3 separate regions of the Homo sapiens genome follow, and all the other regions are linked to region 2. The links come from fine-mapping of genetic effects on gene expression. A gene starts in region 2. Each other region holds a variant in brackets. All regions are shown on one strand. Distances are from middle to middle. Region 1 has its middle 36 kb from the start of RNF24. Region 2 holds the start of MAVS (mitochondrial antiviral signaling protein). Region 3 overlaps MAVS (mitochondrial antiviral signaling protein).

The links. PIP is the estimated chance that this variant, and not a neighbour inherited with it, causes the effect. A credible set is the group of variants that fine-mapping cannot tell apart.
Region 1: its variant is the best candidate, but not a certain one, in a credible set for the expression of MAVS in whole blood (TOPMed, PIP 0.82).
Region 3: its variant is the best candidate, but not a certain one, in a credible set for the expression of MAVS in whole blood (INTERVAL, PIP 0.80).

What each region holds. Positions count from the first base shown.
Region 1 is chr20:4,049,632-4,053,868 of GRCh38, reverse strand. No RefSeq gene overlaps it. Among named protein-coding and RNA genes, the nearest start is that of RNF24, 36 kb to the right of the region's middle. The variant C/T (reference allele first, on the strand shown) is at 1,716.
Region 2 is chr20:3,844,236-3,848,472 of GRCh38, reverse strand. It overlaps MAVS (mitochondrial antiviral signaling protein), which reads right to left and starts at 1,639. Exons shown (of 7, transcript NM_020746.5): 1 at 1,570-1,639. RefSeq lists silencers at 1,363-1,742, 2,173-2,222 and an enhancer at 3,584-3,723.
Region 3 is chr20:3,876,093-3,880,329 of GRCh38, reverse strand. MAVS (mitochondrial antiviral signaling protein) reads right to left here. Exons shown (of 7, transcript NM_020746.5): 7 at 4,212-4,237. Among named protein-coding and RNA genes, the nearest start is that of PANK2-AS1, 11 kb to the left of the region's middle. The variant TG/G (reference allele first, on the strand shown) is at 2,009.

The DNA.
Region 1 (4,237 bases), 210 kb before region 2:
TTGTGCAATGGTTAAACGTAGCTAATTAACAAATACACCACCTCATGACATCTTGTAACTACTCATATTTATGGGATACAATTTGATGTTTCAATGCATGACCCAATCAGGATGTTTGGCATATTCGTCACCTCAGGCGTTTATCATTTCTTTGTGGTGAGAATACTCAGAAGACTCTCTTCCAGCTATTTAGTAACATACAATAACTTACCGTTAACCGTCATCACCCCACGATGCAATAAAACACCAGAACTTATTCCTCCAATCTAATTGTCACTTTGTACCCATTGACCAACCTCTCCCCATCCTCCCTTCTCCGCTCCTTTCTCAAGTCTCTGGTAAGCACTGTTCTACTCTCTGCTTCCATGATATCAACTTTTTCAAAAATTCCACATTAGTGAGATCATGTGGTATTTGTCTTTCTGTGTCTGGTTCACTTTGCTTAGCATAATGTCCTCCAGGTTCATGCATGTTGTCACAAATGACAGGGTTTCCTTCTTTTTATGACTGAATAGTATTGCATTTTGTATATAAACCACATTTCCTTTATCCATTCATTGATGGACACTTAGATTGGTTTCATAGCTTGGATATTGTGAATAGTGCTGCAATAAACATGGAAGTGCAGCTGTCCTTCCACCTTGATTTCATTTCCTTTGGATATATACCCAGTAGTGGGATTGCTGGATCTTATAAATATTAAAATATGTTAATATCTGCATTTTAGTGCAATTGGTTTCCTTTGTTATCTGGTGTATTTTACCTTATGCATTTAAGAGCATTATTCTGAAGAGTTTCATGGACTTCACCAGCCTGCTAAAGGAGTCCACAACCTGAACAAAGTTATGGGAAGGGACAGGGGTGCTCAACCCAGCCCAACCCCACATATCCTGGGACAAGAGCCCTGATCTGGGAGAAGACTGAGAAGCCAAACCCTGAGACAGCTTGCCGTCCCCAGTGAGGACCTTCCTTAGAGTGACCCAGACATGACTCTGGAAGAGGTCCAGGAGGGTTTAGAGGAAGTCCTGTGAGTTGGGACCCAGCTCTTCTCTAAAGAAAGGGCAGAGACCTTGAGGCTCAGGAGAGCCCAGAACCCAGGCAGGGCAGAATATGGGGTGAGTAAGAGGCCTCTGCAGCCAGCTGCCTGCCTACTTATCGTCCTACCTACCAGTGGTTGAGAAGCCTCTGGGGCACCGTGTGTTGCAGCTGTCATCATTCCCATGACCTCTGTGACAGTTTCTCCCAGACCCATCCCACGCAAGCCACCCAGTCCAATTTGAGCACTGCGCATCAGTGGCAACTCCCTCTCTCCCTTGGTAACGAAATCTTTGGAGCCACAGTTTGGACTTAAGGAAGAACTTCCCTGCAAAAAACACTGAGCGCAGGGCTAGGGAGTGGAGGCAGCTATGATGAGGACAGCCAAGGAGGTTAGGAAGCCCCTCTAGCAGCTTTCAAAACCCAGCGAGATATGTCATTGTCTTAGGCTTGAAATGGTCTGGGAGCAGCCAGGTCCGAGACTGAAGACAGGGGTGGACCCACTGAGTCCCAGAACACCCTAGCAGACGTCAGACCTCTCTTTGTTTAGGCGGGCGGCCTCACTCTTGCCTGTCCAGAGAAACTGCAGGCTTGCTTTAGAAGGAATATGTTTCCTTCCACAGGCTTGCTTCACTGCTAAGGAAAAAACAATCTAAAAATAACTGAAATGCAAACTGGAG[C/T]TGATGACAGATATTGGGAGAACAAGAAGAGGTGGGCAGTGTTGGGACCTCTCCCCCAGAGCCCGGCCCAGTCAGGACAGGAGAGAGGTGATGGTGTCACTGCTGGGTGCAGCCCTTCGGATACTCTGTTCGGGGTGCCTGCCCCTAGTAACTCACCTAAGCAGCATTACCCTAAGCTAGCCCACACTGTCCTTCTGTCCCCTGCCTACCCAAACTCCACCTATGCTCCCAGGCCCAGCTTGATTTCATCATTTCCTGAAGGCTTCTCCAATTCCCAAGCCTACACTGAACTCACATAGGCTGTGAGACTAGGAGCTTTTGGGGGCTTGGCCTAATGTTACAGGCTTAGTCTGTTTTCTGTTACTTAGAATACTTGAAAGTGAGTAATTTATAAGGGAGATAAATTTATTTTTTACAGTTATGGAGGCTGAGAATCCAAAGTCGAGGGACTTCATATGGTGAGGGCCTTCTTGCTGGTGGGACTCTGCAGAGTCTCCAGGTGGCACAAGGCATTGCATGGTTGGGGGCGCTGAATGCGGTTTCTCGGGTCTCCCTTCCTCTTTTTGTAAAGCCACCAGTTCCACTCCCATGATAACTCATTAATCCATTAAGCCATTTATCCTTAAATGGATTAATCCATTCATGAGAGCAGATCCCTCATGACCTAATCCCTCTTAAAGGTCCCACCTCTCAGTACCGCCACATTGAGGATTTTCTATCTTTCTTTCTTTCTTTCTTTCTTTCTTTCTTTCTTTCTTTCTTTTCGAGACGAAGTCTTGCTCTGTTGCCAGAGTGGAGTGCCGTGGCGCCATCTCGGCTTACTGCAACCTCCACCTCCAGGGTTCAAGCAATTCTCCTGCCTCAGCCTCCCAAGTAGCTGGGACTACAGGAGCGCGCCACCATGCCCAGCTAATTTTTGTATTTTTAGTAGAAAGGGGGTTTCACCATGTTGACCAGGATGGTCTCAATCTCTTGACCTCGTGATTCACCCGCCTCAGCCTCCCAAAGTGATGGGATTACAGATGTGAGCCACCATGCCCGGCCGAGGATTAAGTTTCAAAGTGAATTTTGGAGGAGGTATTCAAATCATAGCAGTCACCTAAATCTCTGAGGAGACAGAGATCCCCAAAGGATGCTCTTAGCAGCCCCTTAATACACACAACACCCAACTAGTGAGCTAAGGTTGGAAGCTGCCAGATTTGATTCTCCATTTTAGGTGTTCCTAGGCCCCACTGTGTCTCTTATTTGAGTGCCTATGACGAGGCCCCTGCTGTTCTGAGCACTAGGGATACAAGTGCATACTAAGCGAAGTCCCTGAACTGTGTGCTTGACATGCTGATAAGCAACACAGACAGACAGACCGATGACAACATATAAACCAGTAAATAGAATGTGTCAGATGGTGGTAAGTACTGTAGAGACAGATAGAGCTGGTGAAGTCGATAGGCCTGAAGGAAAGTAAAGGAGGGAGCCACGTGGATATCAAAGGGAAGAGCATTCCATTCAGGGTAACAGCCAGTGCAAAGGCTGAGAGGCAAGGGCAACTTTAGCATATTAAAGGGACATGCACAGAGTGACCAAAGAGGAGAAAGTAGGGAGATGATAGGAGGGAAGTATGATGGAGATCACCTAGGGCCTCACAGACATTGTAAGGACTGTGGCTTATACTTAGAGTGGGCTGGGAGCTGTTGGAACATTGGAGGGTTTCCAGCAGAGGAGGAACATGGTCTCAGCCTCTAAAGGATTAATCTGGCTGCTGTGTTGAGAATCACATCAGGAGCAGAGTGAGTTGGAAGAGAAACAAGGGTAGAAGCTGGAGAGAAGGAAGAGAAGGATACTGCAGTAATCCAGGTGACAAGTGATAGTGGCCCAGACCAGACTGGTAGCAGAGGAGGGGATAAAAGTTCAGGTATTTTGAAAGCACTTATGATCAGATTGCCGATCGTTTGGTGGAAGAATATGAGCAGAGAGGAGTCCAGGTTTCTAGCCTGAGCAACGAGTCCAGAAACACAGTGAGAGACTGTGGAAGGGGTGAGTTTAGGGACTGATATGGTTTGGCTGTGTCCCCACCCAAATCTCAACTTGAATTGCATCTCCCAGAATTCCCCCATGTTGTGGGAGGGGCCCAGGGGGAGGTAACTGAACCATGGGGGCCAGTCTTTCCCATTCTATTCTCGTGATAGTGAATAAGTCTCACGAGATCTGATGGGTTTATCAGGGGTTTCCACTTTTGCTTTTTCCTCATTTCCCTTGCCACCAATATGTAAGAAGTGCCTTTTGTCTCCCGCCATGATTCTGAGGCCTCTCCAGCCACGTGGAACTATAAGTCCAATTAAACCTTTTTCTTCCCAGTCTCGGGTATGTCTTTATCAGCAGTGTGAAAACGAACTAATACAGGGACATAGATGAGAATTTCAGTTTGGGATATGAATTGTAGCTTCATGAAGAAACTCAACTCATCCGTCTTGCTAGCTGAGGTCTATCGCTAACTTGGCAGGGAAGTTTTCCAGTGGAGCAGGACA
Region 2 (4,237 bases):
TGAGGCGGGGGTCCTCTGAGCCTTCAAGAAATTAGCAAAGAACAACTCTATGGGAGTTAATAGATCCCTTTCTCGGCCGGGCGCGGTGGCTCACGCCTGGAATCCCAGCACTTTGGGAGGCCGAGGCAGGCAGATCACTTGAGGTCAGGAGTTTGAGACCAGCCTGGCCAACATGGTGAAACCCCGTCTCTACTAAAAATGCAAAAATTAGCCAGGCATGGTGGCACACACCTGTAGTCCCAGCTACTCAGGAGGCTGAGGCAGGAGAATCTCTAGACCCAGGAGGCAGAGGTTGCAGTGAGCCAAGATTGGACCACTGCGCTCCAGCCTGGGCAAGAGAGTGAGACTCCATTTCAAAAAAAAAAAGACCCCTTTCTCCTTCCTTTCTCATGGCATCAGCCAGGTACCAGAAGGCAGTCAGATGAGGCACTCTTCTGCATTCCAGCTTCAGCCACAGATGGAGGGGAAGGGATGATGTGGCCCAAACAAAAGGAAAGGAAGCCCACATTTGTTCACATTTATGGAGGGCCCATTGTAGACAGGCACATCCTAAGGTTCTTTCAGTTAATCCTTCCCCAATCCCGTGACAGGGAAAGTGTTGCCAAGGTGCACAGCTGGCCAGAGGCTAGCACAGGATTTGAACCCAAAACCTGCTGCCTCACTGCAACTGGTCATACACCTTGCAGGGCACAGAGACCCCTGCAGCGAGACCCACACAGCCACCTGCCTTCAAGCCCAAAGAGGACCCAAGGTCACTTGGCGGGAGGGAGGCTGAGGGTGCACTTAGGTGGAAGCAACATTTAGTCCAGACATTAACCCTGCTTTCACATGGCTGCCACAGGTCCCAGGTCGCTGGCTGTCCTCCTAGATATTTTTGAGGCTTCACGGCTTCCATACAGAGAATCCCTTTTTCGTGTTTTTGGTTTGTTTCATGTTTTCTTGGCACTTCCTTCCCAACTGAGAAGGAAGTAGGTGACAGAGTGTTCCCAATACAGCAAAGTTTCCGACCTGACTGTCCAGAGGCTCTGAGTGCATCCCGGAAATAAACACCCACCCTTCCCAAAGGGACAGGCCTCACAGCCTTGGATCGGATTCCTGGGCGCGACCCAGGTCCGCGGAGGGCGGGGAGGCCGTTTTGAGCTGGTGTCGCCGCCGAGAACTGTCCAGACCCAGCGGAGGGCGGCAGCACTCGACCTCTAGGCGCACCCGGTCGAGGCTCGGCCCCACCTTAGCGTCACCCTGGGCCCGCGGGCGGCAGGAGGAGGTCAGCGGCCGCTGCCCGTCCCCTTCTGGCCCTACCTTTCCCCCAGCCTGAGCAGACGCCCAGCGCCACCTACCCCCTTTTCCCCGGATGCTGGATGCGGCGCCTGGAGCCCTCAGTGTTCCCGAAACTCTTGCGACAGGGCCCGCTCTTCCGGATCCCCGCGCGTCCTGTCCCCTCCTGGGCCCCCCGCGCACCCCAGACCCAGGGCGTCCCGGCGGACTCCGTCCTGCCGCTGCAGCCACCTTCCCTAAAGGCGTCCGTGCGTGCTGAGCCGAAAGGACCCAACGCCCGGGAAGCGATCTTACCTCGGGTACCCCCGGCCCTGAGACCTGGCGACCGCCGCCCGGGGCCCAGGACCCTTCCCGCAGCGAGGAGGCGGGGCGGGCAGAGCGCGCGGCCATTGGCCATGTGGAGGGGCGGGGCTACTCGGCCGCGCGTGGTTGGCTGGCGACGCAGGCGGCTGCGCAGCGGGGACGGTCACTGGGCCTTGGTTTGCGGGTCGGGAAGCGCTAGACTGGGCTCGGAGAACCGACCTGATTTTTTGCTGGGGGCGCGCAGTCTCGAGCAACTTCCAGGGGAAGTCCGGTGTCCGGCCAGAAACCAGGCAGGTGGCCGGCCTCGGAGTCATCGGGGGGCTGAGAATTCCATCCCCACGCTTCCCAAGTGAAGCAGCCCCTCCTCCCCCTGGGAACTTTGAGGGGTGAGGGTCTTCGTGTCGTTCTCTCCGGCACCCCCATGGCCTGGCATACAGTTAGTGCCCAATAAACGTTGGGTGCCGCTGAAGTCACAGGGGCAAGGATGCCTATCCTGGAGACGTGCACGCTGGGCCTGTGGGAGTGGGAGCGGGCGGGGGACTGCTGGGTAGGTAGGCGCAAGGCAGGGACGCCAAGGTTGGCTGGCGGGCAGGCTGGGTATGGGTTGGGTGCTGCGTGGGAGAGGCCTCTTACGCCCAAGGGCCTGGGACAGGTACCTCCCGCAGTTCCTGCCATCTGCCTCGCCCTTCCCCTTCTGGGGCAGAGGCCAGCACTTACTGAGCACCTACGATCTTCCAGGCACAGGGTCTTCTATTCTTTTTTTTTTTTTTTTTTTTTGAGACAGAGTCATGCTCTGTCGCCCAGGCTGGAGTACAATGGCGCGATCTCGGCTCACTGCAACCTCCACCTCCTGGGTTCAAGCAATTCTCCTGCCTCAGCCTCCCAAGTAGCTGAGATTACAGGCACATGCCACTGCGCCCGGCTAATTTTTGTATTTTTAGTAGAGACGGAGTTTCACCATGTTGGCCAGGCTGGTCTCAAACTCCTGACCTCAGGTGATCCTCCCACCTCGGCCTCCCAAAGTGCTGGGATTACAGGCGTGAGCCACTACGCCCAGCCTCAAGTGAGGTTTTATTACTGTACTTTATATCCCTGTGAATATTTCACAACCTTCAGCATTTACAAAGTATGCTTAATCACACCTGAACTGTAATAAAACCAGCTCTGCCTAGTTTAGCCAAGAGGGCATAAATGTTGATTAGTTCAAGAATCAATCCTGCCTGCTCCCCACCGGAGCAGCTCTAGCAGCTTCATATCTAATTCTTTCAGGAAGAACATTGAAAGTGTAGGAGCGGGCTTCCAAGTGCAGCTATCACTCCTGTCTTTGCTGGACCTCAAAGAGCATTCAAACAATCCCACTGCCTGACTAGGTGGTTCCCTGCCACCTATCAACAGCTTTTATAAAGATTTAGACAAAGAAGAACACAACAACATGCTTATGGTATTCCTATCAAAAGCTCATGATCTGAAACTAATCATAGGGAAACAGTAAGCAAACCCAAAACGAGAGACATTTGACAGCTGTCCTATCCAATACAATGGCTACTAGCCACATGTAGCTATTTTAATTAAAATTAAATAATACTTAGAAGCCAGTTCCTGAGACCCACGAGCCACATTTCTCTTTTTTTTTTTTTTTTTTTTTTTTGAAACAGAATCTCACTCTTTCACCCAGGCTGGAGTGCAGTGGCCCAATCTCGGCTCACTGCAACCTCCGCCTCCCGGGTTCAAGTGATTCTCCTGCCTCAGCCTCACGAGTAGCTGGGACTACAGGCGCATGTCACCACGCCCGGCCAATTTTTGTATTTTTAGTAGAGACGAGGTTTCACCATATGGGCCAGGCAGGTCTCAAACTCCTGACCTCAAGTGATCCACCCACCTTGGCCTCCCAAAGTGCTGGGATTACAGGCGTGAGCCACTGCACCTGGCCCATGAGCCACATTTCAAATGCTATTTTCATGTAGCTAATGGCTTCATACTCGGTGACACAGAGCATTTCTATTTTTTTTGTTTGTTTTGTTTTGAGACAGAGTTTCACTCTTGTTGTTGAGGTTGGAGTACAATGGCGTGATCTCGGCTCACCACAACCTCTGCCTCCCAGGTTCAAGCGATTCTCCTGCCTCAGCCTCCCGAGTAGCTGGGATTATAGGCATGCACCACCATGCCCAGCTAATTTTGCATTTTTAGTAGACACGGGGTTTCTCCACCTTGGCCAGGTTGGTCTCAAACTCCCGACCTCAGGTGATCTGCCTGCCTCAGCCTCCCAAAGTTCTGGGATTACAGGTGTGAGCCACAGCGTCAGGCCCAAACAGAGCATTTCTATCATCACTGAAAGTTCTATTGGATAGCACTGCTCTGCAGAATAACTCTTCAAAAATTTCAAGGTCAGGAAAAACAAGGAGACTGAGAGACTGCTCCAGAGAAAAGGACACCAAAGTGACATGACAACTGAATGCAATATGGGAACCTGGGTTGGATCCTGAAACAGAAAAAGGACTTCAGGTGAAATCCAAATAAGGCTTTTGGATCAGTTAACAATAATCTAGCTGGGCATGGTGGCTCACGCCTCTAATTCCAGCACTTTGGGACGCCGAGGTGGGTGGATCACCTGAGGTCAGGAGTTTGAAACCAGCCTGGACAACATGGTGAAACCCTGTCT
Region 3 (4,237 bases), 32 kb before region 2:
TTACATTGTCTTCTGTTACTTGGAACCAAGAGTCTTTTTTTTTTTTTTTGAGACGGAGTCTTGCTCTTTCACCCAAACTGGAGTGCAGTGGCACAATCTCGGCTCAATACAAGCTCCGCCTCCTGGGTTCATGCCATTCTCCTGCCTCAGCCTCCTGAGTAGCTGGGACTACAGGCACCCGCCACCATGCCCAGCTAATTTTTGTTTGTTTGTTTGTTTTTAGTAGAGACAGGGTTTCACCGTGTTAGCCAGGATGGTCTCGATCTCCTGACCTTGTGATCCACCCGCCTCGGCCTCCCAAAGTGCTGAGATTACAGGCGTGAGCCACCGTGCCCAGCTGGAACCAAGAGTCTTAATTAAACAATCATGATGGAGACCAAGCCCACATTTTTCAGGTCACCTAATCCTGGCCTCTCCATGATCCAGTAACCTGAGTTACAGCTTTCCTACCATAAGGACTTAGAGCTAATTTCTTAAAGCCTGTAGTGGAGGCTGAGGCGAGAGGATTGATTGACACAAGGAGTTTGAGTCCAGCCTAGGCAACATACCAAGACCCAGTCTCTTAAGTAAATTTTTTAAAAAATCAATTTAGTTTCCAAATGAGATCAACATATTAACATATTATATTTGATTGCTTTGCCTTTTTTTTTTTTTTTTGAGGTGGAGTTTCACTCTTGTTGCTCAGGCCGAAGTACAATGGCACAATCTCAGCTCACCACAACTTCCGCCTCCCAGGTTCAAGCGATTCTTCTGCCTCAGCCTCCTGAGTAGCTGAGATTACAGGCATGCACCACCACACCTGGCTAATTTTGTATTTTTATTACAGATGGGTTTCTCCATGTTGGCCAGGCTGATCTCGAACTCCCGACCTCAGGTGATCCGCCTGCCTCAGCCTCCCAAAGTGCTGGGATTACAGGCATGAGCCACCGCACCTGGCCCAGGTTTGATTTCTTTAAAAGAATTCTTCACAGGTGCTATTTACCTTTTTAAACATTATTTTTCTATTTTTGTTTTGTTTTTGAGACGGGGTCTCACCCTGTCACCCAAGCAAGAGTGCAGTGGTGCAGTCACAGCTTACTGCAGCCTCAAACCCCTGGGTTCAAGCAATTCTCCCACTTCAGCCTCCCAAGTACCTGGAGGTACAGGTGTGCACCACCACGCCCAGCTAATTTTTTTTTTTTTTTTTTTTTTAGAGACAAGGGTCTCACTATGTTGCCCAGGCTGGTCTCAAACTCCTGGCCTCAAGCGATCCTCCCACCTTGGCCTCCCAAAGTGGTTCCCACTTATAAGTGAAAACATTACAGGTGTGAGCCACCATGTCTCACTATTTACTTTTTATTCATCTCATCAAGAGAAGAGAAATTCATAACATTAACTACTTACGTTAGGGGCTACAGCCCCTACCGTAATTTTCTAATCAGGTAGTTTCTTCTATGCTTGGTTAACTGGAATTTGTGTGTGTGTGTGTGTGTGTGTGTGTGTGTGTGTGTGTGACAGAGTCTCACTCTGTCACCCAGGCTGGAGTGCAGTGACACGACCTCAGCTCACCGCAACTTCCTCCTCCCAGGTTCAAGCGATTCTCCTGCCCCGGCTTCCCGAGTAGCTGGGATTACGGCTGTGCACCACGACACCCAGCTACTTTTCTTTTGTATTTTTAGTAGAGATGGGGTTTCAACATGTTGGCCAGTCTAGTCTCGAAATCCTGACCTCAAGTGATCCACCTGCCTGGCCTCCCAAAGTGCTGGGATTATAGGTGTGAGCCACCGCACCCAGCCTAACTGGAATATTTCTATAAAGAATCTTCCCTCATCAACTCTTTGTTATCCTGAAGTACCTCAACCTCAGCCTCCAGAGGAGCTGGAACTACTCAAATAGAAAAGGCAGGATCAATTCTTTCCCTTTACTGACCAGTTTTCAGAATGAGTTGGTTTCCTGGGGCATCCTCTAGAGGTCAACAATGAATTCTTTTTAGTATTATCATGAACTGGTGGCTTTTTTTTTTTTTTTT[TG/G]AGACGGTCTCACTCTGTTGCCCAGGCTGGAGTGCAGTGGTGCGATCTCGGCTCACTGCAACCTCCGCCTTCTGGGTTCAAGCGATTCTCCTGCCTCAGCCTCCTGAGTAACTGGGACTACAGGCAAGTGCCACCACGCCCAGCTAATTTTTTCTATTTTAGCAGAGAGGAGGTTTCACCATGTTGCCCAGGGTGGTCTCGAACTCCTGAGCTCATAGAATCCACCCACTTTGGCTTCTCAAAGTGCTGGGATTACAGGCGTGCGCCACCATGCCTGGTGTTTTTTTTTTTTTTTTTTTTTTTTTTGAGACGGAGTCTCACACTGTTGCCGGGGCTGGTGTGCACTGGCGTGATCTCGGCTCGCCACAACCTCCACCTCCCGGGTTCAAGCGATTCTCCTTCCTCAGCCCCCTGAGTAGCTGGGACTACAGGCGCGTGCCACCACGTCTAGCTTATTTTTGTTTTGTTTTGTTTTGTTTTTTTGAGGCAGAGTCTCTGTCGCCCAGGCTGGAGTGCAGTGACGCTATGTCGGCTCACTGCAAGCTCCGCCTCCCAGGTTCACGCCATTCTCCTGCCTCAGCCTCCCGAGTAGCTGGGACTACAGGCTACCTGCCACTATGCCTGGCTAATTTTTTTTTTTTTTTTTTTTTTTTTTTTAGTAGAGTCGGGGTTTCACCGTGTTAGCCAGGATGGTCTCAATCTCCTGACCTGGTGATCCGCCCACCTCAGCCTCCTAAAGTGCTGGGATTACAGGCATGAGCCACCGCACCCGGACTGTATTTTTTTTTTTAGTAGAGACGGGGTTTCACTATGTTGGCCAGGCTGGTCTCAAACTCCTGACCTCGTGATCCACCTGCCTTGGCCTCCCAAAGCACTGGGATTACAGGCGTGAGCCACCGCGCCTGGCCAACTCATGGATTTTAAAAGCCTATTTGATGAGTTTCAGTCCACTGGAGTCAGGTCTTTTTTTTTTTTTTTTTGGAAGTGCTGTGATCGTGACTCACTGCAACCTCTGCCTCCCAGGTTCAAGCGATTCTCCTGCCTCAGCCTCCCGAGTAGCTGGGACTACAGGCGCGTACCACCATGGCCAGCTAATTTTTTTGTATTTTTAGTAGAGACGGGGTTTCCCCATGTTGGCCAGGATGGTGTCGATCTCCTGACATAATCCACCTGCCCCGGCCTCCCAAAGTGCTGGGATTACAGGCATGAGCCACCACCCAGCCCAAAGATTCTATATTATATATACAGTTTTCCACTTTTTTTTTCCTCTTAGCAAAACATCATGGAGTTCACTCCATAGCAGTATAGAGATACTCATTTCTATTCACAGCTGCATAGCACTCCAATGTAGATATACCTTGGTTTATTGCCAATGTTCTGTAGATGGACATTGTCTGAGTTATTTCCAGTCTTTTGCTATTTACACAGTGGGCTATAATGACTAGCCTTGGACATATATCTTTATTTTTGCCAATGTTATCTTTGGCTTAGACTACTAGAAATGGAATTGCTGGGTCAAAAAACACATGCATATGTCATTTTGTAGGACAGAATCAAATTCCCCTCCTGAAGAGGCAGCTGCTATAATGGTGCTTCCAGTGGTTCCTACTTCTGGGTAAATTGCCCCTTGACTGCAATTTACAGAAGTGATGGGAGTGGATGCAGAGGCTCCTGCCTGTAATCCTAGCACTTTGGGAGGCTGAGCCAGGAGGATCACTTGAGCCCAGCAGTCTGAGACTAACATAGGCAACACAGTGAGACCGCATCTCTACTAAAAATCATGAAAGTTAGCCAGGCATGGTAGCGTGTGCCTCTGGTCCCAGCAACTCAGGAGGCTGAGGTGGGAGGATTGCTTGAGCCCAGGAGTTTGAGGCTGCAGTGAGACATTCTACTCCACTCTACTCCAACCTGGGCGATAGAGCATGCCCTTGTCTTAAAAAAAAAAAAAAAAAAAAAAAACTGCTGGGATGTCACTTTCAAGATTAAGTACCAAAGGACTGTGACTTCTGTTTTGCTCTCATACATTCTCTGTCTGAGAGCTGGGAGCTTGTCTTTAAGTAGAAACCCACCCATCCCCAGGGAGAAGGCAGGAGGGAAAAGGAGGAGAGGTCACAGACAAGCCCCCTGACTCTGTTGATCTTCACTGCAGTAGCTTCTCATTACAAGCAGGCATCTGGCCATTGTAGACCATTATAACTGTAGTTCTAGAAGTAATAATAGCAGATTTA